4 separate regions of the Homo sapiens genome follow, and all the other regions are linked to region 2. The links come from fine-mapping of genetic effects on gene expression. A gene starts in region 2. Each other region holds a variant in brackets. All regions are shown on one strand. Distances are from middle to middle.

Region 1 (7,845 bases), 26 kb before region 2:
GGTTTCACTGTGGTCTCAATCTCCTGACCTCGTGATCCGCCCGCCTCGGCCTCCCGAAGTGCTGGGATTATAGGTGTGAGCCACCGCGCCCGGCCTACACTATTTATTCTTTCAACCTTCCTGTTAATTTGAAATTGTCAGAGAAAGAAGTTTTTAAAAAGTACCTGTACCCAGCCACCGCGCCCGGCCTACACTATTTATTCTTTCAACCTTCCTGTTAATTTGAAATTGTCAGAGAAAGAAGTTTTTAAAAAGTACCTGTACCCAGCTGGGCACCGTGGCTCGCACCTATAATCCCAGCACTTTGAGAGGCCGAGGCGGGTGGATCACTTGAGGTCAGTTGTTTGAGACCAGCCTTATCAACATGGTGAAACCCTGTCTCTACTAAAAAAAAAAAAAAAAAAAATTAGCTGGGCATGGTGGCGCACACCTGGAACCCCAGCTACTTGGGAGGCTGAGGCAGGAGAATCCCTTGAACCTGGGAGGTAGAGGTTGCAGTGAGCCAAGACTGCGCCATTGCACTCCAGCCTGGGCAACAAGGGTGAAATTCTGTCTCAAAAAACAAACAAACAAAAACAAAGTACTTGTCCCCCAGGGTCCAGGCTGAGACAGAGGGGATTACTGGAACCTAGGGCAGATCCTAGATGCGGCTGGGAAGAGGCAGGTGAGCAGGTCAGCTGTCTATCCCTGGATCTCATAACGGTTGCCCCATATCCAGTCCTCATTTTGCCTTTTTATTTTACTTATTTTTTTTTTAGACGGAGTCTCACTCGGTCACACAGGCTGGAATGCAGTGGCTGATCTCGGCTCACTGCAACCTTCGCCTCCTGGCTTCAAGCGATTCTCCTGCCTCAGCCTCCCGAGTAGCTGGGATTACAGGCGTCCACCATCATACCCGCTAATTTTTTTTTGTATTTTTAGTAGAGATGGGGTTTCACCATGTTGGCCAGGCTGGTGTGGAACTCCTGACCTCAGATGATCCGCCCGCCTCGGCCTCCCAAAGTGCTGGGATTATGGGTGTGAGCCACCGCGCCCGGCTTTGCTTTGCTTTTTTGCAATAGAACACACCCCTCCAACCCTGCGTGTCCGGAGTGGCCACAGGCTGCCCAGCCAAAGGCTACATTTCCCAGTGTGCGCTGCCAGGAGGGCCACGTGACTAAGTTCTCCCTCCAGGAATGAGAGTGATCATGAGGTGTGCAGCTACTGGGACATCCTCCCACCCTCTTCCCCGTCACAGTGGCTGGAACATGGATGTAGTGGGAGAGCCAACCACAAGGACAGGGACAACACTGGGCTCCCCAACAACCTTCCAGAGCAAAGCTGTCTGCCAACCCTGCACACTTGCCTATCTTCCAAAGCGTTATGTGGAGAAATCAATTTGTATCTTTCTTGGGCCACTGTGTTTTGGGGGCTCCTTGGTACAACAGCTTAGACCTGAAATAAGCATGGAAAAATTCTGAACTGATGGAGTATATGTTAGAAATGTTCAGGGAGGTTCATAACAGACACTCAGCATTAGAGAGGGGCCAGCTCCTGACAGACATGCAACACGGATGAATCTTGAAAGCAGGCTGTGCAGAAGGCAAAGTGCACACTGGGGGAATGAGGAGTGACTGCTTACGGAGTATGGGGTTTTCTGTAGGGGTGATGAAATGTTTTGAAACTAGACAGAGGTAATGGTTGTACAACACTGTGAACGTACCAACTGAATTCTTTGCTTTATTATTACTTTCTCTCTTTATTGAGACAGGATCTCACTCTGTTGCCCAGGCTAGAGTGCAGTGGCATGATCTCAGCTCACTGCAGCCTTGACCTCCCGGGCTCAGGTGATCCTCCCACCTTGGCCTCCTGAGTAGTTATGAAGACAGATGCGTGCCACCATGCCTAGCCAATTGTTTTTTGGTAAAGACGGGTTTTGCCATGTTGCTGAGGCTGGTCTGAAACCCCTGGGCTCAAGTGATCTGCCTGCCTTGGCCTCCCCAAAGTGCTGGGATTACAGGTATGAACCACCACGCCCAGCCATTGTTTGCTTTAAAATGGCTAATTTTACCTCCATAAAAATTGTACAATACCATTTAGACAAAGTTGTAGAATACACTAAAGTGATCTACAGCGCTAGAAATCAGACTAGTGGCTGCTCCTAGGGTAGGAGAGACTGGGAAGGGTATGAGGGGGTTTCTGGGGTGATAAAACACACTATACAGCTGACTGTACACTGGAGACCTGGGCATGGCACGCCATGTAAATGCCACCTCAATTATAAACATAAAAGTTTGGAGGCTCAATTCCACATCTAGGGACGTACACTGTAGATATATTATCACATAAGAAAAACTGCATTTATAAGGTTATTTCCGGAAGCATCGTTTGAAATCCCCAAGGACTGGAAACCACCTAACTGTCCTCCCCCAGGGGGCTATTTAAATATGTTAAGTCCGTTCAATGGAATACTATGCAACTGTGTAAAGGAATGAGGAAGCTCTTTGTGTACTGATAGGGAAGGTTCTCAAAGAGGCATTGTTCAGTAGATAAAGCAAGATGCACAGTGGTGCACTCACAATTTTATCTTTTGTGTTGAAAAACAATGTCTAAGAAAACGTTTACCCTGATTCTAGTCATTAAGAAACAAACAGCCTGGGTGCAGTGGCTCACGCCTGTAATCCCAGCATTTTGGGAGGCCAAGGAGGGTGGATCACTTGAGGTCAAGAGTTCCAGACCAGCCTGACCAACATGGTGAAACCCCATCTCTACTAAAATACAAAAATTAGCCAGGCGTGGTGGTGGGTGCCTGTAATACCAGCTACTTGGGAGGCTGAGGCAGGAGAATCACTTGAACCTGGGAGGCAGAGGTTGCAGTGAGCTGCGATCACGCCACTGCACTCCAGCCTGGGTGACAGAGCAAGACTCTGTCTCAAAACAAAACAAGAAAAAGAAACAAACGAATCCAAGGTGAGGGGTGACAACACTGGTCTGTAATCTTTAAAACTGTCGATGTCATGAAAAAGTAAGTTGCCTGGGCTAGGAGGCTCACGTCTGTAATCCCAACACTTTGGGAGGCTGAGGTGGGATGATCACTTGAGGCCAGGAGTTAGAAACTAGCCTAGGCAACATGGTGAGACTCCATTTCTACAAAAAATTAAAAATTAGTCAATCTCTACAAAAAATTAAAAATTACTTAAGCATGGTGGTGCATACCTACAGTCCCAGCTACTTGGGAGACTGAGGTGGGAGGATCACTTGAACCTGGGAGGTGAAGGCTGCAGTGAGCCATGACTGCACCACTGCAATACAGTCTGGGCAAGAGAGCAAGACATGTCTTAAAAAATGAAAAAGTTGCCATGACAATGTGTGTTATCCTAGGTTAGAACTTGGATTAAAAAAGTAAAATGATGGGCCAGGTGCAGTGGCTCACGCCTGTAATCCTAGCACTTTGGGAGGCTGAGGCAGGCCGATCACCTGAGGTCAGGAGATTAAGACCAGCCTGGCCAACGTGGTGAAAACCCCGTCTATACTAAAAAAAATACAAAAATTAGCTTGTCATGGTGGCGGGCGCCTATAATCCCAGCTACTTGGGAGGCTGAGGCAGGAGAATCGCTTGAACCTGGGAGGCG[G/A]AGGTTGCAGTGAGCCAAGATTGCGCCATTGCACTCCAGCCCGGGCAACAAGAGCGGGGGAGTGGGAAAAAAAAAGACCTCTCCCTCTCCCTCCCCCTCCCCCTCCCCCCTCTCAGTCTCCCTCTGATGCCGAGCTGAGGCTGGACTGTGCTGCCGCCATCTCGGCTCACGGCAACCTCCCTGCCTGATTCTCCTGCCTCAGCCTGCTGAGTGCCTGGGATTGCAGGCACGCACCGCCATGCCTGACTGGTTTTTGTATTTTTTGGTGGAGACGGGGTTTCGCCGTGTTGGCCGGGCTGGTCTCCAGCTCCTGACCGCGAGTGATCTGCCCGCCTGGGCCTCCCGAGGTGCCGGGATTGCAGACGGAGTCTCGCTCACTCAGTGCTCAATGGTGCCCAGGCTGGAGTGCAGTGGCGTGATCTCGGCTCGCTACAACCTCCACCTCCCAGCCGCCTGCCTTGGCCTCCCAAAGTGCCGAGATTGCAGCCTCTGCCCGGCCGCCACCCCGTCTGGGAAGTGAGGAGCATCTCTGCCTGGCCGCCCAGTCTGGGAAGTGAGGAGCGCCTCTTCCCAGCCGCCATCCCGTCTAGGAAGTGAGGAGCGTCTCTGCCCGGCTGCTCATCGTCTGAGATGTGGGGAGCGCCTCTGCCCCGACGCCCCGTCTGGGATGTGAGGAGCGCCTCTGCCTGGCCGCCACCCCGTCTGGGAGGTGTACCCAGCAGCTCATTGAGAACGGGCCATGATGACGATGGCGGTTTTGTCGAATAGAAAAGGGGGAAATGGGAAAGGAAAGAGAGATCAGATTGTTGCTGTGTCTGTGTAGAAAGAAGTAGACATAGGAGACTCCATTTTGTTCTGTACTAAGAAAAATTCTGCCTTGGGATGCTGTTAATCTACGGCCTTACCCCCAACCCCGTGCTCTCTGAAACATGTGCTGTGTCCACTCAGGGTTAAATGGATTAAGGGCGGTGCAAGATGTGCTTTGTTAAACAGATGCTTGAAGGCAGCATGCTCCTTAAGAGTCATCACCACTCCCTAATCTCAAGTACCCAGGGACACAAACACTGCGGAAGGCCGCAGGGCCCTCTGCCTAGGAAAACCAGAGACTTTTGTTCACTTGTTTATCTGCTGACCTTCCCTCCACTATTGTCCTATGACCCTGCCAAATCCCCCTCTCCAAGAAACACCCAAGAATGATCAATAAATACTAAAAAAAAAAAAAAAATAGTTCTCAAGAATAACTGTAGAATGTGCTAGGAATGCAATATCCTGAGATAAGGAGGGACTGGCTGAAACAGCCCAGGCTCTGTTCCAGTCCCTCCTAGAAACAGGATGTCCTTCATCATTTTAGCCCAACATGTCATGTTGCCTCCAGAATATAAAACCCAAGATGGTCTGCTTTCCAGGTACAAATGGGGTACACACAAATGAGACTCCATCCTCCCGGGGCAACCTTCCTGAGTCTCGGGAGATTGGCTCACAATGAATCCTATGCTTCGGTTTTCCCTTGTTGCCTAGCTGTAAATAATAAATTTACTTCATGTAACTTGAAAAAAAAAAAAGAAAAGAAAAGAAAAAAAGAAATTATTGGCCAGGCGCAGTGGCTCACACCTGTAATCCCAACACTATGAGAGGCTGAGGTGGGTGGATTACCTGAGGTCAAGAGTTTGAGACCAGCCTGGCCAACATGGTGAAACCCTGTCTCTACTAAAAATATAAAAATTAGCTGGGCGTGGTGCCAGGCGCCTGTAATCCTAGCTACTCGGGAGGCTGAGGCAGGAGAATTGATTGAACCTGGGAGGTGGAGGTTGCAGTGAGCCAAGATCGCACCACTGCACTCCAGCCTGGGTGACAATGAGGCTCTGTTTCAAAAAAGAAAAAAAAAACAAAACAAAAAACAAAAAAAAAAACAGGCTGGACATGGTGGCTCACGCCTGTAATCCTAGCACTTTGGGAGCCCAAGGCGGGCGGATCACCTGAGGTCAGGGGTTCGAGACCAGCCTGGCCAAAATGAAACCCCGTCTCTACAAAAAATACAAAAAAATTAGCCGGGCGTGGTGGTGCATGCCTGTAATTCCAGCTATTCGGGAGGCTGAGGCAAGAGAATGGCTTGAACCCAGGAGGCAGAGGTTGCAGTGAGCCGAGATAGTGCCACTGCACTCCAGCCTGGGCGATAGAGCAAGACTCAGTCTTGGAAAAAAAAAAAAAATAAGAAATTATTTATAGCCTTGAAGAATATTACAGGGACACGTGGCAGATCTAAATAAGAATCGTCTATTCAATAACGTCACTGTCTCATGTTAAACTGCATGATGATGACAATGACACTGTAGTTCTGCAGGCGGACATCCCTGTTCTTAAGAGCTGACTGCTGGAGGCCAGGTACGGTGGCTCACGGCTGTAATCCCAGGACATTTGGAGGCCGAGGCAGGGGGATTGCTTGAACCCAGGAGTTTGAGATCAGCCTAGGCAACATGGTGACACCCTGTCTCTATAAACAATATAAAAATTAGCAGGGTGTGGTGGCACACACCTTTAGTCCCAGCTACTCGAGAGGCTGAGGATCAGCTGAGCCTGGGGAGGTCGAGGCTGCAGTGAGCTGTGACCACCCCACTGCACTACAACCTGCATGACAGAGTAAAATACTGTACCAAAAAAAAAAAAAGAGGCCAGGTGCGGTGGCTCATGCCTGTAATCCCAGCACTCTGGGAGGCAGAGGCACGTAGATCATAAGGTCAGGAGTTCAAGAGCAGCCTGGCAAAGATGGTGAAACCCCATCTTTACTAAAAATACAAAAATTAGCCAGATGTGGTGGTGCGCGCCTATAGTCCCAGCTACTCAGGAAGCTGCAATAGGAGAATCGCTTGAACCTGGGAGGCAGAGGTTGCAGTGAGCCAAGGTCGCACCACTGTACTCCAGCCTGGGTGACAGAGCAAGACTCCGTCTCAAAAAAAAAAAAAAAAAAAAAAAAAGAGTTAACTGCTGGAGTTTTCAGAGGTGAAGTATCATGATGACCACAACTTTCAAATAGTTCAGCCAAAAAAAGGACAAAAGGTACAGGTATATGCATGTGCTTGGATAAAGCATAAAGCAAATGAGGTGTCATGCCAACAGCCAGTGAATCTAGGCAAAGGGCCATGGCTGTTCACTGTACTCAATTTGTACCTTCTCTGCAGGTTTGAAACTTTTCAAAATATTAAGGGGGAAATATATAAAATGAAAATAGTAACAAATTTACAAGGTGGGCAGAAGAGTATGTAGAAATCTTTTTGCTTTTAATGCAGGGAGTATGTAGACGTCTTTTTTATTGTAATGCAGGGAGTATGTAGACGTCTTTTTTATTGTAATGCAGGGCATATGTATAAATCTATTTGCTTTTAATGCATCATTCTATAAGGAGAGCTAAGAAACTGGTTTCCTGGGGGACAGGGTAGAAGACTTCATTTGCTAACTGCTTTATTGAGCTATAATTCACATACTATACAATTCACCCATTTAAAGTATATATAGTTCAATGGTATTTAGTATGTTCAGAGTTAGGCAACCATCACCACAGTCAATTTTAGAACTCTCTCATCACCCCAAAAAGCCTAAATCCTTTAGCTCTCTCCCTGCATTCAGCCCATCTGCCCCCACCCCTGGCAGCCACTCATCTAACTTTCTGTCTCCATGGATCTGCCTATTCTGGGCATTTCCTATAAATGGGATCTTGGAATATGCAGCCTCTTGTGTCTGGCTGCTTTCTCTGAATGTGTTCATCGCTCATGTGTGTGGCGGCCTTTCGTCAGTGCTGTGTCCCTTTTTTGCTGAGTACTTTTCCGCTGTATGGCTAGAACACGTCTGACGTATCCCTTCATCAGTGGATGGACATTAGGGTTGCTTCCACCTTTTGTGAGTGGTGCAGCCGTGAGCGTGTGCAGGGGGTTTTGTGTGAGGAAGACTTTGACTGCGTTTGTGCTCTTTGGGTGACAACCGCGTACATGTGTGACTTACAGGAAGAAGCAAGCGTCGTTAGCGGCTCTGGCTTCGGGTTGTGCAAGTAGCCAGAGAGGGACAGGGAGTGATGATCTGCGAGGAGAGACCCGGGTGGGACAGAGGAAGCGCAGGGGCTTGTGGGAGCCCAGAGTCAGTGCTGAAGCTGGAGGAGGAAGGAAGGAGCTGACTGGCTGCCCTTGGTCAGTTGGCTGTGGCTGCGGGGGTGCGGTGGGAGGGACGGTGTCACCAGGGGCAAAAC
Region 2 (7,845 bases):
CCCCCACTCTTGGACACACAACTGGACTACATTTCCGGGTCGTCCTTGCAGCCAGGAGCAACCACGTGACAGATTCCCACCAATGGAACAGGGGCAAAAGTAATCCTGGCAAAGACGATGCGAGGCATCTGGGCTGATTACTTGGTGTCTGCAGCTTCAAGAACCAGGTTCAATTCCCCTCCAAGTGCACCTGGGCTGCCTCCTCTTAATCTTGCTGCACCGCAGCAGCCCCTCCCCAACCCGGTAAAATGTGGGCGATAATTCCTTTCTTACAAGGTTAGTAAATAAAATGACGGGTTTAAAAATCTGGCAATCCTTTACCTAATCACTTCCTGAGGGGATTCGGGAAAGATTGTGTTGGGCGATTCTGGAAACTGTGCTCCTCTGATGGTGGAGGCCCACTCGGTCACAACCCCCTGAGAGACAAGACATGGGGAGATCCAGGTCCCATTGGCCGGGCCGTGTTCGGCAGGAGATCTCCCAGTACGCTTGGGCAGGGGAGTCAGGGAGGAAGCCTGTTCTGCTCCTTTTCCCGTGGGGTGCAGAGAGCGAGCAAGTCGGCATTCCAGGCGGTGGGAACTGCTAGGGCGGAAGCAGGAAAGCTGGAGAGAGCCTGGTGTTCCAGGGGTCCAGCTCTAGAAACGGGTGGCGGCTGGGGAATCTTGGCTGGGAAAACAGGCCCACACCTCCACCTTGTGGCCAATTGGGAATTTGCAGGCACGGCCTCTCAAACTACTTAAGGGCGCTTGGGTGCAGTTGGATGGGGTGCTGCAGACGGAAAGCGTGCGGGGCGAGTTGAAGGGGCCCAGATCGAGTGCTCTGACTGAGAAAACAAAGGGGGGTGGTGACAGTTATCAGGGACACGTTCGGCTGCTTCAGGAAAATCCCCCAGAGCAAGGAGTGCACAAAGTGGATCTTTACCATTATTTATGTATTTATTTATTTCTGTTGAGACAGTGTCTCACTCTGTCACCTGGGATGGAGTGCAGTGGCGTGATGACGGCTCACTGCAGCTTCAGCCTCCTAGGCTCAAGTTATCCTCCAGCCTCACCTTCCCCAGTAGCTGGGACTACAGGAGTGTGCCATTACGCCCAGATAATTTTTACATTTTTTTTGTACAGACAGGGTCTCCCTTTGTTGCCCAGGCTGGTCTCCAACTCCCAGGCGCAAGCGATCCTCCTGCCTCAGCCTTCCAAAGGGCTGGGATGACACCCCCAGCCTCCCAAACGCACCCCCACCGCACCTAGCCTTTCTTTTGTTTCTTTTTTTTTTTTTTTTTTTTTTGAGAGGGAGTCTTGCTCTGTCGCCCAGACTGGAGTGTAGCAGCGCGATCTTGGCTCACTGCAACTTCCGCCTCCCAGGTTCAAGTGATTCTCCTGCCTCGGCCTTCCGAGTAGCTGGGATTACAGGCGCTGACCACCACGCCTGGCTAATTTTTGTATTTTTAGTAGAGACAGGGTTTCACCATGTTGGCCAGACTGGCCTCGAACTCCTGACCTCAAGTGATCCGCCTGCCTCAGCCTCCTAAAGTGCTGGGATTACAGGCATGAGTTACCGCATCCAGCCGATTTCTAAGGGTTTTGACTCCAGTCCCTGGCTCACTGACTGTATCTCTGGACCCACCTGGGACCTGAGGTAACTTGATGCCCTGAAGGGAAGGATGCAAGCATGGCTGCCTTTGGAACCTGCTAGTTTTAGAGCCCAAGGGCCTTGAGCAAACATAAGCAGTAGGCAGGTAGGTCGTGGTTACAGGAGGCCATGGGCAGGACCCAGCGCAATCCCAGTGATAGTAGGCATGGGGTGTTTGTGTCACCCCACTCCCAGCTCCAGGTAGCTCAGCAGAGAGAGAGAGACAGAGACAGAGAGAGAGAGAGAGAGAGAGAGAGAGAGAGGGAGAGAGAGAGACTGACTCTGTTTGAGAGAAAGCAAGGGAAGAGAGCAAGAGTCTCTGCCTGGTAATCCAGATAAATCTTCTGGATCTTATCTAAGACCACTAAGATAGTACCTCTATGAGTTTGCAAGAACCACAGCATTAATGGGCTTGGGGAGCCCCCTAATGCAGACATGGCTTAGATCACAACACCCAAGTACTTTTGAATACCTGGAAAGCCTCCCCAAAAAGGACAGGTACAAACAAGCCTTGTCTGCAAAGACTACAATAAATACCTAACATGGCCAGGCATGGTGGCTCATGTCTAATCCCAGCATTTTGGGAGGCTGAAGCAGGAAGATCACCTGAGGTCAGGAGTTTGAGACCAGGCTAGACAACATGGTGAAACCCTGTCTCTTCTAAAAATACAAAAATTAGCTGGGTGTAGGCTGGGTGCGGTGGCTCATGCCTGTAATCCCAGCACTTTGGGAGGCCGAGGCAGGTGGATCACCTGAGGTCAGGAGTTCGAGACCAGCCTGACCAATATGATGAAACCCTGTCTTTACTAAAAATACAAAAACTAGCTGGCATGCGCCTATAATCCCAGCTACTTGGGAGGCTGAGACAGGACAATCGCTTGAACTCAGGAGGCAGAGGTTGCAGTGAGCCAAGATGGCGCCATTACACTCCAGCCTAGGCAATAAGAGTGAAACTCCATCTCAAAAAAAAAAAAAAAATTTAGCCAGGGTGGTATCGGGTGCCTGTAGTCCCAGCTACTCGGGAGGCTGAGGCAGAATTACTTGCACCTGGGAGGCAGAGGTTGCAGTGAGCTGAGATCACACCATTGCACTGCAGCTTGGGCAACAAGAGCAAAACTCCATCTAAATAAATAAATAAATAAATAAATAAATAAATAAATAAATAACTCATCAATGCCCAGCCACCAATGAACATCTATAAGCATCAAGGCCATCCAGAATAAATGACCTTACCAAACAAATCAAATAAGCCACCAAGGACCAATCCTTGAAGAAACAGAGATATGTGACCTTTCCGACAGAGAATTTAAAATAGCTGTTTTGAGGAAACTCAAAGAAATTCAAGCTAACACACAGAAGGAATTCAGATTCCATCACATAAATTTAACAAAGAGATTGAAATAATTGAGAATCAGCTGGGTGCAGTGGCTCACGCCTGTAATCCCAGCACTTTAGGAGGCTGAGGCGGGCGGATCACCTGAGGTCGGGAGTTCTAGACCAGCCTGACCAACATGGAGAAACCCTGTCTCTACTAAAACTACAAAATTAGTGGGGCGTGGTTGCGCATGCCTGTAATCCCAGCCTGGGCAACAAGAGTGAAACTCGGTCTCAAAAAAAAAAAAACCAAAAAACAAAAACAAAAACAAACAAACAAAAAACAATACCCAATGATCTGTTGTCAACAAGAAACATACTTCACCTACAAATAAAACAGTAAGAGACTGGGTCCTGAAATGCGGGCCCACTTCATATGTGAGGGCAGGTGTCTAATCATGTCCTTTCTCCCTTCCCCCAGGCCCTTCACAGATACCTGCTGGTCTCTCCCACTTGGCCAAGGAAACACTTGTGGTTAATAAGTCTCAGAAAAGTTATGTGAAAGTTAAAAGTAAAACTGACAGCAGCTGAAGGATGGGGGGGTGGGAGGTGGTGACGGTGGAGGAGACCCCACCACCACTGCCACCCAAGTAGGGAGTGAGGAGCACCAGGAGCACAGGATGCTACTTCTGCCAACCCTACAAAAATACTCTGCACAAATCTTCAAAAAACATCCTTGTCCCACTGCGTCACCTGCGGACAGATTTCATGTCCTGGTCTCCTTCTAAACCTGGAGGTGGGGCATGAACAGGGTGGAGTCACAGGGGAAAGAAAATGAGGCCCCAGGACACCTGGGTTCACACCCAGGTCCCCAGCGATGTCTCCACCACCGCTGCTGCAACCCCTGCTGCTGCTGCTGCCTCTGCTGAATGTGGAGCCTTCCGGGGCCACACTGATCCGGTATGGTGACCCCATCTACCACCCCAACCTTAGGAGGGATTTTCTGCCTCTTGCCCTTTAAGTCTAGGACTCCCAGTTCAGTGATCCCCAAACTTGGCACCCAGGATCCCTAGAGCTTCTTTCTCAGCTTTCCAGATCTCTAAACCAGGCTGTCACCCCTAAGGGCTCCACTCTGACATCTCTTAAGACCAGATTTCTTTTTTTTGAGATGGAGTCTCACTCTGTTGCCCAGGCTGGAGTGCAATGGCATGATCTCAGCTCACTGAAACCTCTGCCTCCTGGGTTCAAGCGATTCTCCTGCCTCAGCTTCCCAAGTAGCTGGGATTACAGGCTCGCGCCACCATGCTCAGCTAATTTTTGTATTTTTAGTAGAGACGGGGTTTCACCATGTTGGCCAGGCTGGTCTGGAACCCCTGACCTCGTGATCCGCTCACCTCGGCCTCCCAAAGTGCTGGGATTACAGGCGTGAGCCACCGCGCCTGGCTGACCAGAGCCCTTTTATTATTATTATTATTATTATTATTATTTATTATTATTATTATTATTTGAGACAGAGTCTTGCTCTGTTACCCAGGCTGGAGTGCAGTGGGGCGATCTCAGCTCACTGCAACCTCTGCCTCCCGGGTTCAAGTGATTCTCCTGCCTCAGCCTCCCAAGTAGCTGGGACTACAGGCACATGCCACCACGCCCGGCTAATTTTTGTATTTTTAGTAGAGATGGGGTTTCGCCATGTTTGCCAGGCTGTCTTGAACTCCTGACCTCAAGTGATCTTTCCGCCTCAGCCTCCAAAAGTGCTGTGGTTACAGCTGTGAGCCCCCGCGTCCGGTCCCAGAGCCCTTTTAAGTCCCAGATCTTACAACACTGAGACTCTAGATTGAGGACCCCTCCCCCTCCTCTCAGGACTTTTTTTTTTTTTTTTTTTTTGAGACTGAGTCTCACTCTGTTGCCCAGGCTGGAGTGCAGTGGCGCAATCTTGGCTCACTGCAAGCTCTGTCCCCCGGGTTCACATCATTCTCCTGCCTCAGCCTCCCAAGCAGCTGGGACTACAGGCACCCGCCACCACGCCCGGCTAATTTTTTGTATTTTTAGTAGAGATGGGGTTTCACAGTGTTAGCCAGGATGGTCTCGATCTCCTGACCTCGTGATCCACCCACCTCAGCCTCGCAAAGTGCTGGGATTACAGGCGTAAGCCACCGCGCCTGGCCTTTTTTTTTTTTTTTTTTTGAGACGGAGTCTTGCCCTGTCGCCCAGGCTGGAGTGCAATGGCGCGATCTCAGCTCACTGCAACCTCCACCTCCCAGGCTGACACCATTCTCCTGCCTCTGAAAGTGCTGGGATTACAGGCGTGAGTCACCATGCCCGGCTAATTTTTTTTGTATCTTTAGTAGAGATGAGGTTTCACCATGTTGGCCAAGCTGGTCTTGAACTCCTGACTTCGTGATCTGCCTGCCTCAGCCTCCCAAAGTGCTGGGATTACAGGCGTGAGCCACTGCGCCTGGCCAGGACATGTTTTTGAGAGGTCTCTGCAGACCCTACTATGAGCTCTGATGATTAGGTACTGTGGTTTCCAGACCTGTGACACACTCCTCCCATCTTCGAGCCCCAGATATGTGACATTTAAACTGAGACTCCCCCACATCACGCCCATCAAACTGGCCTGAAGAAGTCATGTTTTTGGCCAGAGACATGGCTCACACCTGTAACCCAGCACTTTGGAAGTCCAAGGTGGGAAGCTTGTTTGAGGCCAAGAGTTTTGAGACCAGCCTGGGCAACATGGCCAGACTCCACCTCTACAAAAAATACAAAAATTAGCTCAGTGTGGTGGTGCACACCCATGGTCCCAGCTAGTTCAGGAGGGTGAGGAAGGAGGATTGCTTGAGCCCAGTAGTTCGAGGGGGCAGTGGGCTATGATCCTGCTACTGCACTCCAGGCTGGGCAACAGGGTGACACCTTGTCTAAAAAAAAAATTAATAAATAAAATAAAATAAAATAAAAAGCCAGGTGTGGTGGTGTGCCCATAGTCTCAGCTACTCCAGAGGCTGAGGTGGGAGAATCACTTGAGCCCTGGAGATCAAGGCTGCAGTGAGCCCTGACTGCACTACTGCACTCCAGCCTGGGTGACAGAGGGAGACCCTGTTTCAAATAAAAAGTTTAAAAGAAGAAAAAGAAATCCAATCTTGGGGACCCTATGCAAGAAGTCTTCCCACTACCTTACCTCTGATGTCCCCTCCCCGCCCCCATCTCTCTTTTTCTCCTCTCTTGTCTTCATTCCCTGGAACTCTTGGTAGGGGGAGGGGTGTACACTTCCAGGAAGAGTTTTCCCCACTTCACATTCTCGTGCCTCTCAAAGACTGACTCATGGGGGGTGACGGGAAAGGTGTGAGTGATGTGACAAGTGCTTCAAGGAGTGACTAAAGGCAGGAACGAAGATATTACCGCACATGGTGCTTGTTAACCTGCTTTTTGAACCTAATGTCTCATGGCCATTTTCTAAGTCAATGCAAAGAAAATGAGTCTCCAAATGTTGTATCAACAGCATCGTCATGACCTGGGAACTTGTTAGAAATCCAAATTCTCGGCTCCATCCTAGACCTACTTAATTAGCAACTAAGATACCTGAATTGTAATTGGCCCTCTAAGTCAAGGGTTGCAAACACTCAGCTTAAGGGCCAAATCCTGTTTGCCTCCTGCTTTTGCAAATACAGTTTAAAGGAACCCGGACAGGGCATAGTGGCTCTCCTCTGTAATCCCAGCACTTTAGGAGGCTGAGGCCAGGAGTTTGAGATCAGCACGGGCAACACAGCAAGACAATTAAGATTTGACGCTTACATTTTTCTCCTCAAGGGTGGGGAAAATAGTCCCTAACCTCACGAACTGAAGCATGCAGGGGCCACCACCCAAGGGCTTTTGCAAAGGTTAGGTTTTCTGTTAGGGTCTTGGGAAATCTTTAAGAATGTCAATTCCTTGGGAATAGCTTATTTTAAGGGATTTGGACATGGAAAGGTCTGTTTGGGATGGTTTGCTCTTGTAAAGTCTTTGGGGATATTTGTCATCATGGCATCTTTGATGGGCTTTTCTGGAGGTTGTTATTGCAGGGTTTCTGGTACTGACTACTATTGTAGTGCCTTGGAGATGTTGAATTTGTCATCATATCCTATTTGGGTAAGTCTATTTAGAGGTTCTCCAAGAAGGGCAGCTTCCTGTCAATATCCTCTTTCCCTACAGCATCCCTCTTCATCGAGTCCAACCTGGACGCAGGATCCTGAACCTACTGAGGGGATGGAGAGAACCAGCAGAGCTCCCCAAGTTGGGGGCCCCATCCCCTGGGGACAAGCCCATCTTCGTACCTCTCTCGAACTACAGGGATGTGAGTCACAGCCCCACACAGCCCTCACCCCTGCGCCCTTGAGCCAAACTCTTCGTTTACTCTCCTCTTTTGCTATCAGGTGCAGTATTTTGGGGAAATTGGGCTGGGAACGCCTCCACAAAACTTCACTGTTGCCTTTGACACTGGCTCCTCCAATCTCTGGGTCCCGTCCAGGAGATGCCACTTCTTCAGTGTGCCCTGCTGTGAGCTTCTATGTGGGAGAATAAGGCTGAATGGGGGTGAAGGGAGGAGGCGGGGCTGGACCTCAGCTTCTCAGAGGCTTTTGAGGAACTGTTCTTTTATCATGCCCTCACAGGTCAGAAAGTCAAAGGGGCAGTAGGCACTGGGGAGATTCCCTCCCCCATGACACCTTTCTGACCTCTAACCTAGGGTTACACCACCGATTTGATCCCAAAGCCTCTAGCTCCTTCCAGGCCAATGGGACCAAGTTTGCCATTCAATATGGAACTGGGCGGGTAGATGGAATCCTGAGCGAGGACAAGCTGACTGTGAGTGGCCTTTGACTCTCAGAAGTCTTGAGCCTGGGAGAACCCCATTGTCTAAGATCATCTGGC
Region 3 (7,845 bases), 60 kb before region 2:
TTGTTTTTGTTTTTAAGACGGTGTCTCACTCTGTCGCCCAGGCTGGAGTGCAGTGGCACGATTACAGCTCACTACAGCCTCCTACTTCCTGGGCTCAAGAGATCCTCCCACCTCAGCCTCCTGAGCAGCTGGGACCACAGGTGTTCACCCCCACGCTCGGCTAATTGTTTTTGTTATGTTTTGTAGAGACGAGGTCTCATTATGTTGCCCAGGCTGGTCTTGAATGCCTGGGTTCAAGCCATTCCCCCTGCCTCGCCTCCCAAAGTGCTGGGATTACAGGTGTGAGCCATTGCCCAGCTGATGGCCTGCTGTTAATGTGGATCCCTCACACCTCCACCACCAAGTGCTACAGTGCACTAAAGAGACCACCACCAGCGACCGGGGCCTCGGTTGGGGGGCAGGGGGGTGACGACCTTGAGACTTCTGGTTAGAAATGACATGGGTGGGGAGCTGCCATGATCACCCAAAATCAGTCGCGTGGCCAGAGTGGTCTTCAGCATGGCCATAGGGAGTGGCACTAGGAAGGGTAGGATCCCCATGAGAACTCAGTCTTTGTGGGGTCCCTGAAAGGGCATATCAGATGGAGAGCCTAGGAGGTCTCAGATGTGATTGGAGGATCCCAGATATAACAAGGGTGTCCCTGACAGGGCCCAGACATGACACATTTCACTGACTCCCCATCCTCCACCCCAGACCTCTCAAGAGTGATTTCAGACATGACAAAAGGATCTTGGAGGAGCCCTAGATGTGATTGGGGAACTCCAGACACATAAAAAGGGGCAGCAGAATAGTTCCAGAGAATTGGGGGATCTCAAAAATGAGGGGACAGATGTGACAACACAGCCATAGATGGGCGAAGAGATCTGAGATGATAACAGCTCCCAGAGGGCCCCAGACATAACTAGGAAATCTCAGATCTGACAAGAGGGAACCTTGGACAGGGCTCAGGGTTGCCAGCAGGGCCCCCACCCCAGATGAGATTCAGGGTTTACAGACACACAGCGATCTTAAAAACGTCCCAGGCCTCACTGGGGAATCAGATATCACAAGAAAATCCCAGAGAAGCTCTTGGGATTCTGGAAGAACTGCTACCCTGCCTCCCCGAGTATAGTGGTCCATAGGTCCTGTCACCCAAAACATGAGGATCCCAGGGAGTCTGTACATGACAAAGAAATCCCAGAGGACCCCAGGCACAAGTGGGGAATCCCAGACAGGCCCGGGCTGGGCTTGGGGATTATGGCAGGGCAGCACTCCCCTTACCCCAAAAGGTGGGGATGCGTAAGTCCTATCACCTAGAGTGTGGGGACGCCCTTTTTCTTCCAGGGGGATCCTGGCTGGGACGTGAGGTCCCCCAGCGGCTCCGCAGGTGGGAGCCTCGGGTGTGCTCAGGCCCGGCGGACTGCAGGCAGCAGCGCGCTGTCGAACTGGTAGGTGAGCTTGCGCTTGACCTTGCGGATCTCGCCGGTCTTGGCGTAGTTTCGGAGGGCGCGCGCCAGCTTCTGGTAGGTCATGCGCTTGCGGTTCCCCTTCTGCTGGCCCCAGCGGCGCGCCAGGAGTTCCTTGTGCTTGGAGGAGAACTGGAAGACGCCGGCGCCTGGCTCCACCCACCACACGCACTCACGCATGTCCCCGCGCGTCAGTAGCCCCAGCAGGAACTGGTACAGGCGCAGCTTCTTGCGAGTCCCTGCGGTGGGGTCGGGGGCACGCGTTAGGTGAGGGGTCCCTAAGGCCCCGCCTTCCCCATCCACCCTCCTCCGAGACTTCCACCCCGGCCTCCATCTCCTGGATCTGAAAAGTGGGGTGAGGGAAGTGGCTGTTACATACACCTGGCTCTGCGCCCCTCACCACGGGGGGGGGGGGGGGCAAGCCACTCCCCCTGCCCGAAGCTGTCAGCCCCAGGCCCCCTCCGCGTTCTGTGCTTTAATTTTCGAGATTTACATCTGTCCTGCCTTCCGCCCTGCGGCCAGCACGTAATATTCCATATTTGTTGAGCTAGTGGATGAAAGAATCTGTGAAATGGGTTGACAGCGCCGCTTAAAGGATTATAACGGAGAGGCGAACAGATCTGGAGGCAGTTGCATTGGCCTGGCTATCTCTCCAGCTCCTGGTCTCCCAGCCTCTCAGCCCAAAGCGGGACAGGGTCCCGGGAGAGGCCAGGGCACCTGACTCCTGGGCTCCTAGGGTTTAGTTTGTTTTTGAGACGGGGTCTTGCTCTGCGGCCCAGGCTGGAGTGCAATGGCGCAATCTCGGCTTACTGCAGCCTCTGCCTCCTGGGTTCGAGCAATTCTGCTGCCTCAGCCTCCCGAGTACCTGGGACTACAGACGTCTGCCACCATGCCCGGCTTATTTTTATATTTTTAGTAGAGACGGGGTTTCGCCATGTTGGCCAGGCTGGTCTCGAACTCCTGGCCTCAGGTGATCCGCCCACCTCGACCTCCCAAAGTGCTGGGATTACAGGCATGAGCCACTGCGCCCGGCCAATAACTGGGAGTTTCAAAGCAGGGCACTGGCTACAAGAATCCCATCTCTGCCATTTTACAGCAGTGTGACCTTGGGGTGGTGACGTAGTGACATCTTAATTTCTTTTTTTTCAAGGCAGGGTCTCGTTCTGTCACCCAGGATGGAGTGCAGAGGAGCAATCACAGCTCACTGCAGCCTCGACCTCCTGGGCCTAAGCAATCCTCCTGCCCCAGCCTCCCCAGTAGCTGGGACTACAAGTATGCACCATCATGCCTAGCTAATTGTTTTATTTTTTGTAGAGATGGTGTCTTACTATGTTGCCCAGGCTGGTCTTGAACTCCTGGCCTCAGGTGATCCTCCCACCTCGGCCTCCCAAAATGCTGGGATTACAGGTGTGAGCCACTGCACCCGGATTGAATTCTTATAATTTTAGGCTGCCTCGGCATTCATCGAAAGTATAAGTTGGAGGCTGGGCGCGGTGGGCCATGCCTGTGATCCCAGCACTTTGGGAGGCCAAGGTGGGCAGATCACTTGAGGTCAGGAGTTCGAGACAAGCCTGGCCAACATGATGAAACCCGGTTTCTACTAAAAATACAAAAATTAGCTGGGTGTGCTTGGCTCATGCCTGTAATCCCAGCTACTTGGGAGGCTGAGGCAGGAGAATCACTTTAGCCCAGGAGGCAGAGGTTGCAGTGAGCTGAAATCATATCATTGCACTCAGCCTGGGCAACAAGAGCGAAACTCCCTCTCAAAATAAAATAAAATAAAACTAAATAAAAGTTGGACATTCTCATGCTGGAAGCAGGGCTGTCCTCCTTGGCAGTTCTACATCTCCCTCCCCGAGTTCCTCAGTGTGGCTGACCCAGATATCTCTCTTATGCAACTGACTCCTGGTGACCACCTCCCTGTGGGAGAGCCATGGACAGCCTACTTGACGGCCCTGCATGGACTGTGCAGATGCCTCAGTGACCCCCTCTCAGGCACAGCGTGACCTCCTGGAACTTGATCCTGCTTGCTTTCAACCCACCAAGTATTTATTTATTTATTTATTTTGAGCTGGAGTCTTGCTCTGTTGCCCAGGCTGGAGTGCAGTGGCATGATCTCAGCTCACTGCAAACTCTGCCTCCTGGATTCAAGCGATTCTCCTGCCTCAGCCTCCCAAGTAGCTGGGATTACAGGCGTGCACCACCAGGCCCAGCTAATTTTTGTATTTTTAGTAGAGACGGGGTTTCACCATGTTGGCTAGGCTGGTCTTGAACTCCTGACGTTAGGTGATCTACCAGCCTCAGCCTCCCAAAGTGCTGGGATTATAGGCATGAGCCACTGTGCCTGGCCTGAACCCACCAATTAAAACCCCCTCAGGAAACCTGTTTGGCCGACGCCTTGGACCCAATAAAGGCGTCAGTCCACTGGTCCCTCTCTCTCTCCCTCCCTGCCTGCGCTCCCTGACCTGGTGTGTGTGGCCTCCAGGCGTGCCATGTATGCCCCAGGACCTATAAGCCATAAAATAATTTATTTCTGGCTGGGTGTGGTGGCTCATGCCTGTAACTTCAGCACTTTGGGAGGCTGAGGTGGGAGGAGCA[C/T]ATAGGCTCAGGAGTTGGGAGTTCAGCCTGGGCAACATAGCGAGACCTCACCTCTACAAAAATTTTAAAAATTAGTCAGGTGTGGTGGTGTACGCCTGTGGTCCTAGCTACTCAGGAGGCTGAGGCAGGAGGATCGATTGAGCCCAGGAGTTTGAGGCAGTAGTGAGCCGAGATTGCGCCACTGCGCTTCAGCCTGGGTGACAGATGGAGACCGTCTCAAATAAATGAATAAAAATAAATAAAATCTTTATTTCCATCTTGTGTCTTTCCTAGTCATTGGAGAGATCCTCTCCATCTTAAATGTCCTAAGTTAAAATAGGTGACTTAATTAACCTCTCTGAGCTGAAGTCTCTCAGCCACAAATGAGGCTGTGTGGCTGGGCACAGTGGCTCACGCCTGTAATCCCAGCACTTTGTGAGGCCGAGACGGGCGGATCACCTGAGGTCAGGAGTTTGAGACCAGCCTGGCCAGATGGTGAAACCCCATCTCTACTAAAAATACAAAAAATAGCTGGGTATGGTGTGGGTGCCTGTGATCCCAGCTACTGCGGAGGCTGAGGCAGGAGGATTGCTTGAACCCAGAAGGTGGAGGTTGCAGTGGGCCGAGATCGTGCCACTGCACTCCAGCCTGGGTAACAGAGCGAGACTCTGTCTCAAAAAATAAATTAATTAATTAATTAAAATTTTTTAAATGAGGCTGTGGTTTTGTTTGTTTGTTTTTGAGACGGAGTCTTGCTCTGTCACCCAGGCTGGAGTCCAGTGGTGCAATCTCAGCTCACTGCAACCTTTGCCTCCTGGGTTCCAGCAACTCTCCTGCCTCAGCCTCCTGAGTAGCTGGGATTACAGGCATGTACCACCATGCCCCATTAATTTTTTTTTCTTTCTTTTTTCTTTTTTTTTAAGACAGAGTCTTACTCTGTCGCCAGGCTGGACTGCAGTGGCAAGATCTCGGCTTACTGCAACCTCTGCCTCCTGGGTTCAAGCGATTCTTCTGCCTCAGCCTCCCGAGTAGCTGGGACTACAGGTGCACACCACCACGCCTAGCTAATTTTTGTATTTTTAGTAAATGTGAGGTTTCACCATGTTGGCCAGGATGGTCTCGATCTCTTGACCTCGTGATCCATCCTCCTCAGCCTCTCAAAGTGCTGGGATTAAAGGCATGAGCCACCATGCCCAGCCTAATTTTTGTGTTTTTAGTAGAGACGGGGTTTTGCCATGTTGGCCAGGCTGGTCTCGAACTCCTGACCTCAGTTGATCTGACCGCCTCAGCCTCCCAAAGTGCTGGGATTACAGGCGTGAGCCACCACACCCAGCCTGTGTGTTGATTTTTACAATGCACCGTGGAGCATGTAGTGCCAGGTGCTTCACAAGGCACTTTACAGTTATGAGCTCATTGAATCTCCATCATAACCCCGTGAGATGGGGAGGATGACAGTGATGCCCACTTTACAGACGAGAAACCGAGGCCCAGACACAGAAAGGAAGGAACGATCTCAGCTTTCTTGGGGTTGAGCATAAAGGATGTTGGGCACACGGGCAGGGGGCAAGGGTTGAACCGTTGGGGGTTGATAGCATTATCATTTCTGTTGCTGTGGTGTCGGGAATGATGGTGAAGAGGTTGACTTATTGAAGTGCTCACTCTGTGCCTGGCACTGCTGTCCCATTTACACTTACTATCCCATTTAGTCCCCCCAACGACCTCAGGAGGGTAGACACTATCACCTCCATCCCCATCGCACAGACAGGAAACCTGGGCACAGAGAGGTAGAGGCACTTACCCAAGGTCACACAGCCAGCAGGTGGTGCGGATCTGGGAGCTGCCCAGAGTGCTGGAGTATATGTAGAGGCCCAGGAAGCCATGGTGCTCTCAGCCCCCCCACCATCTCCAGCTGGCATCTCCCCCACCCCAGCCACTCCCGCATACCTGCCTCGGATCCCTTCCCCTCGGGGCCAGCCACGAGGGCCTCATCCGACTCGCTGTCCGAGACCTCCAGGGCAGGGCTGTCCAACGGTAAGTCTTCCTCCTCTGATAGCACAGGGCTGGGGTACGGGGCATATGCCGGGGGAACCAGGGTCTGCGGAAGGTCAGGGTCACCTGCATGTCCAGGGACCCCTTGTCTCCCTCCACTTCCTCCTCTCAGGCCAAGGCGGTGGCCCTCCTGGCTCTGGTCTCCCTCTTTGTTGACAGCCTAGATTTTGGCCTTTGTTCAGATCACCACGCTGTGGCCAGGGGACACCTGAGGTACCTCCTCAAAGCCGGCCCAACACAGGTAATGCGAGTCTGCCCTGTCCCTGGCTTCCTGTCACTACCTCTCTTGACTCACTTGTTCAGAGGGGCAACAACGGAACGTAACCTGGGAGGCCGCTGCAGGGCTTACTATGTGCAGTCTCAATGCAGTGCCCGGCACCCAGCAAACCTCAACCAAATGACTGAGCTTGAGTTTTCTTTTCTTTTTCTTTTTTTTTTTTTTTTTTGAGACAGGGTCTTGCTCTGTTGCCCAGACTGGAGTGCAGTGGATTGCCTCGACCTTCTGGGCTCAAGCAATCCTCCTCCCACCTCAGCCTCTCAAGCAGCTGGGATTACAGGCGTGCACCACCACACCTGGTTTGGGCTTGATTTTAACTGTCCCCTTACCACTCACCTGGCTAGCGAAGTTCTCCGTGGGGTATGCAGGGAGGCCAGGCCCCGGGGCCTCCAGGCTGGGGGCCAGTTCGAGGTTCCCTGCAGGGCTGTAGGTGGGGGGTTCGTAGCAGAGCTGGGCAGCCTGGGGGTGGCTAAAAGCGGCTGCTGCCGGGTCGAAGGCTTCATAGGGGGTGGCTGGGACAGGTGGGGCCACAGTCCAGTCCCACAGGGAGTCTGGGGGAAGGGCACTGAGTCAGAAGCTGGGATGTCTCACGGAGGCCTCCTCGCAGTCGAAGCCCCCAGCACAGAGAGGCCATTGTAGGCTGTGCAAATCTCTGACCCCAGGATTTGCATGGAGGAGCGGATGGGTAGGAGAGGAAAGGGGAGGAGGGCTATAGGCCCGGGCCACCTTTATCCTGTTGTGCTAGGAAATGACCTCCCCTGGGCCTCAGCTCCCCTATCTGTGAAATGGGCCCCAAGGCAGGAAGGGCACAGGGCTGGGGTCACTCACCAGGAGCCCCCTCTGAATCAGGGTAGCTGGAATGCTTGCAGCTGTCCAGGTCATAGAAGACGCCATCTGGGTACTGATACGGGGTGCAGGAGGGAAGAGGGGTCATCCCAGGCCTTGGGGACTCCCAACCCCCACCCTGGACCCTTGGGGAGACTCCAACACAGACATGGGAGAGAAGAGGGGATGCTGGAGAGATTAGAGCAACAAAGAAACACAGAGACTAGGCATCAGAGACAGGGACAAAGAGACAGAGATACAGAGAGTAGAGACACAACCCAATAGGGGCACACAGCAGCCAGCTCCTGCTAAGACGGTGGGCTCCCAAGAACCCTGGCCCCTCACTGGCACACAGTCAGCGAATCAGGGCGCCTGGAGAAGGGGTGGAAGAACTCCCCCAGCCTTGCCTGCCTGGGGGCTCCGGAGGTGAAGGGCAAGGGGAAATGGAAGTGTTTCACTTAACAGAGGCAGGGGTCAATGCTTTTTAAATACACCTCCAGGCCAGGCGTGGTGGCTCACGCCTGTCATCCCAACACTTTGGGGGGCCGAGGCGGGCAGATCACCTGAGGTCAGGAGTTCAAGACCAGTCTAGCCAACATGGTGAAATCCCGTCTCTACTAAAAATACAAAAATTAGCTAGGCGTGGTGGCGCACGCCTGTAATCCTAGCACT
Region 4 (7,845 bases), 140 kb before region 2:
CCCCTGCTCCCCACTGCCGCTGCTGCCTCAATAAATCTGCTGATTTGCTGCCTGCCTGGCCTGTGTCTGACGGCCCCACCCTTCTGGGGCCCCTTCCACTCAGTGACTCCCACTTACCTTACAGGCCAGACACCCTGGTGTGTGGGGCCGAGAGCCCAGGAGGCCTCCTGGTTCTCTGCCACCTCATGCCAGTTTCTCACTGCTGGGCCTCAGTTTCCTCATCAGTGACACAGCAGAAAAAAACACAAGTCCGTGCCCCCTGGGGCTCACGCTCCTCCGGTGCTGGAGAGAGACCAGTGGCAAACAAATGAGTTTGATCTCCTGGGTTCCACGGGGGTCATTGCTAAGGAGAAAGCAGGTGTTTACTTCTTTATTTGATTGATTGATTGAGACAGGGGTCTCACTCTGTCACCCAGGCTGGAGTGCAGTGGGTCAATCACAGCTCACTGTAGCCTTGAACTCCTGGGCTCAAGCGACCCTCCCACCTCAGCCTCCCAAGTAGCTGGGACCACGGGTGCATGCCACCATACCTGACTACTTTCTTTAAATTTTTTTGTAGAGATGGGATCTCGCTTTGTTGCCCAGGCTGGTCTTGAACTCCTGACCTCAAGCAATCTGCCTGCCTCTGCTTCCCAAAGTGCTGGGATTATAGGTGTGAGCCACCATGCCTGAGTTTACTTCTTGACTCTCGATTCTATTCCGTTGATTGGCAGGCGGGCAGAACAGTGGCCCCAAAGATGTCCACACCCTGGCCAGATGTGGTGCCTCATGCCTGTAATCACAGTGCTTTGGGAGGCTGAGGTCCACAAGTATGAGACCAGCCTGGGCAACATAGCAAGACCCTGTCTCTAAAAAAAAAAAAAATTAAAATAAGTGGCATGTGAGGCTGGTGGCTCACGCCTGTAATCTCAGCACTCTGGAAGGCCGAGGCGGGTAGATCACCCGAGGTCAAGAGTTCAAGACTGGCCAGGCGCGGTGGCTCATGGCTGTAATCCCAACACTTTGGGAGGCTGAGGCAGGCAGATCACGAGGTCAGGAGATCGAGACCATCCTGGCTAACACGGTGAAACCCCGTCTCTACTAAAAATACAAAAAAATTAGCCAGGCATGGTGGCGGGCACCTGTAGTCCCAGCTACTTGGGAGGCTGAGGCAGGAGAATGGCATGAATCCGGGAGGCAGAGCTTGCAGTGAGCCAACATTGTGCCACTGCACTCCAGCCTGGGCAACAGAGCGAGACTCTGTCTCAAAAAAAAAAAAAAAAAGAGTTCAAGACCAGCCTGGCCAACATGGTGAAACCCCATCTCCACTAAAAATACAAAAATTAGCTGGTTGTAGTGGCGGGTGCCTGTAATCCCAGCTACTCAGGAGGCTGAGGCAGGAGAATCGCTTGAACCCAGGAGATGGAGGTTTTGGTGAGCCAAGATCGCACCACTGCACTTCAGCCTCGGCAACAGAGGAAGACTCTGTCTCATAAATAAATAAGCGGGACATGGTGGCCAGCACCTATAATCGCAGCTACTTGGGAAGCTGAGGCAGGAGGATTGCTTGAGCCCAGGAGGTTAAGGCTGCAGTTAGCCATGATCGTGAGTAAGAGAGATCTTGTCTCAAAAATATAATAGCCCAGGCATGGTGGCTTACACCTGTAACCCTAGCACTTTGGGAGGCAAAAGCAGGAGTATCACTTGAGCTCAGGAGTTTGAAACCAGCCTGGGCAACATAGTGAGACCCCGTCTCTACAAAAAATTTTAAAATAAGCTAAGCATGGTGGTGCACACCTGTGATCCCAGCTACTTGGGGGGTGGAGGCAGGAGGATCACTTGAGGCCAGGAGGTCGAGGCTGTAGTAAGCCATGATCGAATCACTGCACTCCACCCTGGGTGACAGAGTGAGACCCTGTCTCAAAAAAATAAATAAAAATAAATATAATAGACCAGGCACGGTGGCTCACGCCTGTAATCCCAGCACTTTGGGAGGCCAAGGCGGGCAGATCGCGAGGTCAGGAGATTGAGACCATCCTGGCTAACATGGTGAAACCCCGTCTCTACTAAAAATACAAAAAAATTCGCTGGGCGTGGTGGTGGGCACCTGTAGTTTCAGCTACTGGGGAGGCTGAGGCAGGAGAATGGCGTGAATCCAGAAGGCAGAGCTTGCAGTGAACCAAGATCGTGCCACTGCACTCCAGCCTAGGTGACAGAGTGAAACTCCGTCTCAAAAATAATAATAATAATAATAATAGGCCAGGTGCCGTGGCTCACGCCTATAATCCCAGTACTTTGGGAGGCCGAGGTGGGTGGATCACGAGGTAAAGGGATCGAGACCAGCCTGGCCAACATGGTGAAAACCCCATCTCTACTAAAATTACAAAAATTAGCCAGGTGTGGTGGTGCACGCCTGTAATTCCAGCTGCTCGGGAGGCTGAAGCAGGAGAATCACTTGAACCCAGGAGGTGGAGGTTTTGGTGAGCCGAGATTGCACCACTGCACTCCAGCTTTGGCAACAGAGGAAGACTCTGTCTCATAAATAAATAAATAAGTGGGACGTGGTGGCCTGCGCCTGTAATCACAGCTACTTGGGAAGCTGAGGCAGAAGGACTGCTTGAGCCCAGGAGGTTAAGGCTGCAGTTAGCCATGATCGTGAGTAAGAGAGACTTTGTCTCAAAATATAATAGCCCAGGCATGGTGGCTCACACCTGTAACCCTAGCACTTTGGGAGGCAAAAGCAGGAGGATCACTTGAGCTCAGGAGGTCGAGGCTGTAGTGACCCATGATCGAATCACTGCACTCCACCCTGGGTGACAGAGTGAGACCCTGTCTCAAAAAAATAAATAAAAATAAATATAATAGACCAGGCACGGTGGCTCACGCCTGTAATCTCAGCACTTTGGGAGGCCGAGGCGGGCGGATCATGAGGTCAGAAGACTGAGACCATCCTGGCTAACACGGTGAAACCCCGTCTCTACTAAAAATACAAAAAAATTAGCCAGGCATGGTGGCAGGCGCCTGTAGTCTCAGCTACTGGGGAGGCTGACGCAGAATGGCGTGAATCCAGAAGGCGGAGCTTGCAGTGAGTGGAGATCGTGCCACTGCACTCCAGCCTGGGTGACAGAGTGAGGCTCCATCTCAAACAAACAAACAAAAAATTAGGCCAGGTGCAGTGGCTCACGCTTATAATCCTAGCACTTTGGGAGGCTGAGGTGGGTGGATCACAAGGTAAAGAGATTGAGACCATCCTGGCCAACATGGTGAAAACCCCATCTCTACTAAAATTACAAAAATTAGCCAGGTGTGGTGGCACATGCCTGTAATCCCAGCTACTCAGGAGACTGAGGCAGGAGAATTGCTTGAACCTGCAAGGCGGAGGTTGCAGTGAGCCGAGATCGCACCAACTGCACTCCAGTCTGGGTGACAGAGTGAGACACCGTCTCAAAAAAAAAAAAAATTAGCCAGGCATGGTGGCAGGTACCTGTAATCCCAGCTACCTGGGAGGCTGAGACAGGAGAATCGCTTGAACCCAGGAGGCGGAGGTTGCAGTGAACTGAGATCGCGCCATTGAACTCCAGCCTCAGCAACAAGAGTGAAACTCCATTTCAAAAAAAAAAATTAATTAAAATAAATACAGTTAAAAGATGCCTTGTCCTAATCCCTGGAGCCTGTGAATATGTTGTGTTACTTGGCCAAGGGAGAGTGAGGTTGCGAGTGGGACTGGGACAGGGAGAGTGTCCTGGATCCCCCGGTGGGCCCCGGGTCATCACGAGGGTCCCCACAGCGGAGGAGGGACGCCTGTGCTGACGGGAAGTGTCGGCCCACCCTCCCAGCTCCCACCCTGTGGGGAGACCCAAGGGGACACCAAGAGTTTCTGTCCCAGCAGTGGGGGCTTTTATGGGGTTCCCACAGAGCACTGCAGGGACGAGAGAACAGAGAAGGGACCCCGGGACAAGCAAGTCGCATAAAATGGCCCAGAGACAAGGCTGGCCACGGAAGGCTGAGGAGGGCTCTGCAGAGGCTGGCGGGGCACGGGAGGGCACTCCAGAATTGGAAGTCATCCCGGATGAGACCTGGAACGCCACGGCTGTTTATCGCCAGAGTTATTTGAGGAGGTGATGAAGGAGGAGGGTGGGTCCCGGCCAGGAACCCAACCAGGCGGGACCTCCAAGGGCAGCCTGGGAGCTG[C/T]GAGAAGGGAAGGACAGGTCAGCTCTGGGTGCAGAGACCCCTCTGGGGCTGCAGGCACAGAATGGAGGGGGAACCAGAAGCCAGGAGGCCCGGGAGGAGGCTGGGAGGGGCGAGGCAGGGCTTGAGCTAGGCCCCTGAGGGCGACAGAGAGGAGGGTCTGAGGCTGGTGGGCCCTGGGAGGTGAGGAGGCAGGAATGAGTGGAAGGTGTCCAGGGGCCTGGATGAACCTGGGGATCCCCGTTAGGCACCTGCAGAAGTGGGGGACTCAGGCACAGGGAGGCAAGGGGTCCCTGGCTTGGGGTGTGTCCCCTCCTGGAGCCACAGGCCCATGCGCCCAGGCAGGCAGTTCATCCAGGCAGCCCACAAGCTGCCCATGCACCCCTGGCAAGGTGGAGCTGATGCCCCGCAGGACACACTCATGAAAGCCCTGGCTGCGCATGGACCAGGGTGTGGCAGGTTCTGGTTTGCAAGTTTTCCCAAGGTCAAAGGGCAGGTCGTAAAGTTAAAAGCCAGACAGCACCGGAGGGGAAACTGCTGGGGGTTGCAGACTCCCGAACGGCTCTGGCCCCATCCCATCCAGATCCCTGCACCTCCTGCCCGCCCACCGGGCTCCCCACGCCTCTGCTGGTGTGGGTCTCGCTCTCTGCCCCATCTGGGTGTCTGGCCCCGGGCCCCTGGCTAACCCCCTCTGTCTCTGTGTCTCCCTCTCTCGCTTCGCCTGTCTCAGCCTCCCTTCTCTATCTCTCTTGCTGGGCATTTCTCTCCACCCCTCTCTGTCTCTTTGACCCTGTCTCTCTGTCTCTCCCACGGTCTCTCTCAGTCTCTCCTCAGCTCGCTGTCTCTCCCCTCTGTCTGTGTCTCTCCCCTTCTCTCAGTGCCCCTGGGCCCCTCCCTGCCACCCTGTGCCTGTCGCCTGTCCCATCGCAGGTCCCAGACAGACTGGCGGGGGCCTGAGTGTTGCTATTCTTGGGCCTGAGTGGCAGGCGGGGCTGTGGCCCCCAGGTGCGTCCTGGGCTATGGCCAAATAAGGTCCGGAGTGAGGAGCCCCGGGAGGAGGAGCTGGGGGCGCTGGGGGTGGGGGGAGAGGGGCCAGCTGACCTCCTCCTGCTCCCACTCCCTCCTGCCCCAACCCCCATATTCTGGCAGGTGAGAGCGGGCAGGACAGACCAGGTCATTGCATCAACTAAGCACTTACTGTCTGCCCCTCACAGTGCAGAGCGCCTGTGCCCCCACCCGCTGGGACTGCTCTTCCCAGGGGAGCGCCTCAGGACTCAGAGGGCTACCGCTTGCCCCAGGGCACCCGGCCAGGCCTGTCCCAGAGCTGAGGGGGCTGGGGCGCCCCGCACAGATGCCAGTGGCCTCTCCACACCCCCAGGCTGCAGAAAGGGAGAGGGAGGGGCTGTGGTCAAGAGGCAGGCGCAGGGCAGGTGCGGGGGGAGGGGGACAGCTGTCCCACACCCCCTGGTGGTGACAGCTGCTGCCCGATTTAGCTCACAGAGCCGGGTCTGGCCAGATAAGGCAGTTGGGTGGGGGGGCGGTCTCACCCCCAGGGCACCCCTTAAATCGCACAGTCGGGCCCAGGGTTCAGCTGCCACCGACGCCAGGTGAGAGGGGCTGTTCTTTCCTCGACCTCCTGCCGCAAGGCTCCGCGCGTCTTCTCTCGCTGTCTCCCTCCGTCTCTCTCTCCCTCTCTCTCTCCGTCTCCCTCTCTCCCTGTCTCTCTCTCCCTCTGTCTCCCTCTCTCCCTCTGTCTCTCTCTCTCCCTGTCTCTCTCTCCGTCTCTCTCTCTCCCTCTGTCTCTCTCTCCGTCTCCCTCTGTCTCTCTCTCTCCATCTCTCTCTCTCTTTCTCCCTCTCTCCCTCTGTCTCTCTCTCCGTCTCTGTCTCCCTCTCTCTCTCTCTGTCTCTCTCTCCCTCTGTCTCCCTCTCCCTCTGTCACCCTCTCTCCCTCTGTCTCTCTCTCTCCCTGTCTCTCCCTCTGTCTCTCTCTCTCCATCTCTCTCTCTCCGTCTCTCTCTCCGTCTCCCTCTGTCTCTCTCTCTCCGTCTCTCTCTCTCCCTCTCTCCGTCTCTCTCTCTCCGTCTCTCTCTCTCCCTCTCTCCCTCTGTCTCTCTCCGTCTCTCTCTCCCTCTCTCTCTCTCTCCTTCTCTCTCCCTCTCTCTGTCTCTCTCTCCCTCTGTCTCTCTCTCCGTCTCTCTCTCTCCGTCTCTCTCTCTCCCTCTGTCTCTCTCTCCCTGTGTCTCTCTCTCCCTGTCTCCCTCTGTCTCTCTCTCCCTGTCTCTCTCTCCCTGTCTCTCTCTCTCCGTCTCTCTCTCCCTCTCTTTCTCCGTCTCTCCCTCTGTCTCTCTCTCCCTCTCTCTCTCTCTCCCTCTGTCTCTCTCTCTGTCTCCCTCTGTCTCTCTCTCTCCGTCTCTCTCTCCCTCTCTTTCTCCCTCTCTCCCTCTGTCTCTCTCTCCGTCTCTGTCTCCCTCTCTCTCTCTGTCTCTCTCTCCCTGTCTCTCTCTCCCTCTGTCTCTCTCTCTCCCTCTGTCTCTCTCTCTCCCTGTCTCTCCCTCTGTCTCCCTCTCTCCCTCTGTCTCTCTCTTCCTGTCTCTCTCTCTCCCTCTGTCTCTCTCTCTCCCTGTCTCTCCCTCTGTCTCCCTCTCTCCCTCTGTCTCTCTCTCTCCGTCTCTCTCTCTCCCTGTCTCTCTCTCCGTCTCCCTCTGTCTCTCTCTCCGTCTCTCTCTCCCTCTCTCCGTCTCTCTCTCTCCGTCTCCCTCTGTCTCTCTCTCCGTCTCTCTCTCTCCCTCTCTCCGTCTCTCTCTCTCCGTCTCTCTCTCTCCCTCTCTCCCTCTGTCTCTCTCCGTCTCTCTCTCTCCCTCTCTCTCTTTCTCCCTCTCTCCCTCTGTCTCTCTCTGTCTCTGTCTCCCTCTCTCTCTCTCTCTCCTTCTCTCTCCCTCTCTCTGTCTCTCTCTCCCTCTGTCTCTCTCTCCGTCTCTCCCTCTCCGTCTCTCTCTCTCCCTCTCTCTCTCTCTCCCTGTGTCTCTCTCTCCCTGTCTCCCTCTGTCTCTCTCTCCCTGTCTCTCTCTCTCCGTCTCTCTCTCCCTCTCTTTCTCCGTCTCTCCCTCTGTCTCTCTCTCCCTCTCTCTCTCTCTCCCTCTTTCTCTCTCCCTCTCCCTCTCTCCCTCTGTCTCTCTCTCCCACTCTCTCTCTCCCTCTTTCTCTCTCCCTCTGTCTCTCTCTCTCCGTCTCCCTCTCTCCGTCTCTCTCTCTCCCCCTCTTTCCCGCTGTCTCCCTCTCTCCTCTCTCTCTCCGTCTCTCTCTCCTTCTCTTTCTCCCTGTCTCTGTCTCTCTCCCCATCTGTCTTTCTCTGTGTCCCTCTCCCCAGTTCTCTTTATCTCCTCTCCTGCCTCATCTCCCTCTCCTCACTGTCTCTGTCTCTCATTCTCCCTATCGTTCTCTCCATCTCTCTCTCCTCCTTCTCGTCTGTTTCTCTCTGTCTCTCCATCTGTCTCATCTGTCTCTTCCTCCCACCTCTTTTCTGTGTCTCTGTCTCCTCCCCCCAACTTTCTCTCAGTCTCCCTCAGCACCCCCTGTTTCTCTTTCTTACTCTCCCTTTTCTCCCCATCTCTCTGTCTCTCCCTGGCTTTGTATCTCTGTGTCTCTTTCTCTCTGTCTTCTTCTATCTCTGTCTCTC

What was found. PIP is the estimated chance that this variant, and not a neighbour inherited with it, causes the effect. A credible set is the group of variants that fine-mapping cannot tell apart.
Region 1: its variant is the best candidate, but not a certain one, in a credible set for the expression of NAPSA in whole blood (TOPMed, PIP 0.55).
Region 3: its variant is the best candidate, but not a certain one, in a credible set for the expression of NAPSA in whole blood (TOPMed, PIP 0.67).
Region 4: its variant is the best candidate, but not a certain one, in a credible set for the expression of NAPSA in whole blood (TOPMed, PIP 0.50).

The regions. Positions count from the first base shown.
Region 1 is chr19:50,387,564-50,395,408 of GRCh38, reverse strand. All of the region lies in intron 1 of POLD1 (DNA polymerase delta 1, catalytic subunit), which reads right to left. Among named protein-coding and RNA genes, the nearest start is that of POLD1, 7.1 kb to the right of the region's middle. The variant G/A (reference allele first, on the strand shown) is at 3,612.
Region 2 is chr19:50,361,597-50,369,441 of GRCh38, reverse strand. NAPSA (napsin A aspartic peptidase) reads left to right here and starts at 3,803. Exons shown (of 9, transcript NM_004851.3): 1 at 3,803-3,903; 2 at 7,129-7,270; 3 at 7,350-7,473; 4 at 7,661-7,779. The coding sequence starts at 3,821. The region is part of intron 3 of LOC105372437 (a long non-coding RNA gene); the gene reads right to left. RefSeq lists enhancers at 600-659, 3,453-3,602.
Region 3 is chr19:50,421,877-50,429,721 of GRCh38, reverse strand. SPIB (Spi-B transcription factor) reads right to left here. Exons shown (of 6, transcript NM_003121.5): 3 at 7,177-7,249; 4 at 6,685-6,899; 5 at 5,967-6,117; 6 at 1-1,684. The coding sequence ends at 1,386. Among named protein-coding and RNA genes, the nearest start is that of SPIB, 6.9 kb to the right of the region's middle. RefSeq lists enhancers at 1,074-1,363, 919-1,491, 1,492-2,065. The variant C/T (reference allele first, on the strand shown) is at 4,044.
Region 4 is chr19:50,498,205-50,506,049 of GRCh38, reverse strand. It overlaps JOSD2 (Josephin domain containing 2), which reads left to right. Exons shown (of 5, transcript NM_001270639.2): 5 at 1-52. Among named protein-coding and RNA genes, the nearest start is that of JOSD2, 9.1 kb to the left of the region's middle. RefSeq lists an enhancer at 4,056-4,719 and silencers at 5,530-5,579, 5,680-5,729. The variant C/T (reference allele first, on the strand shown) is at 4,171.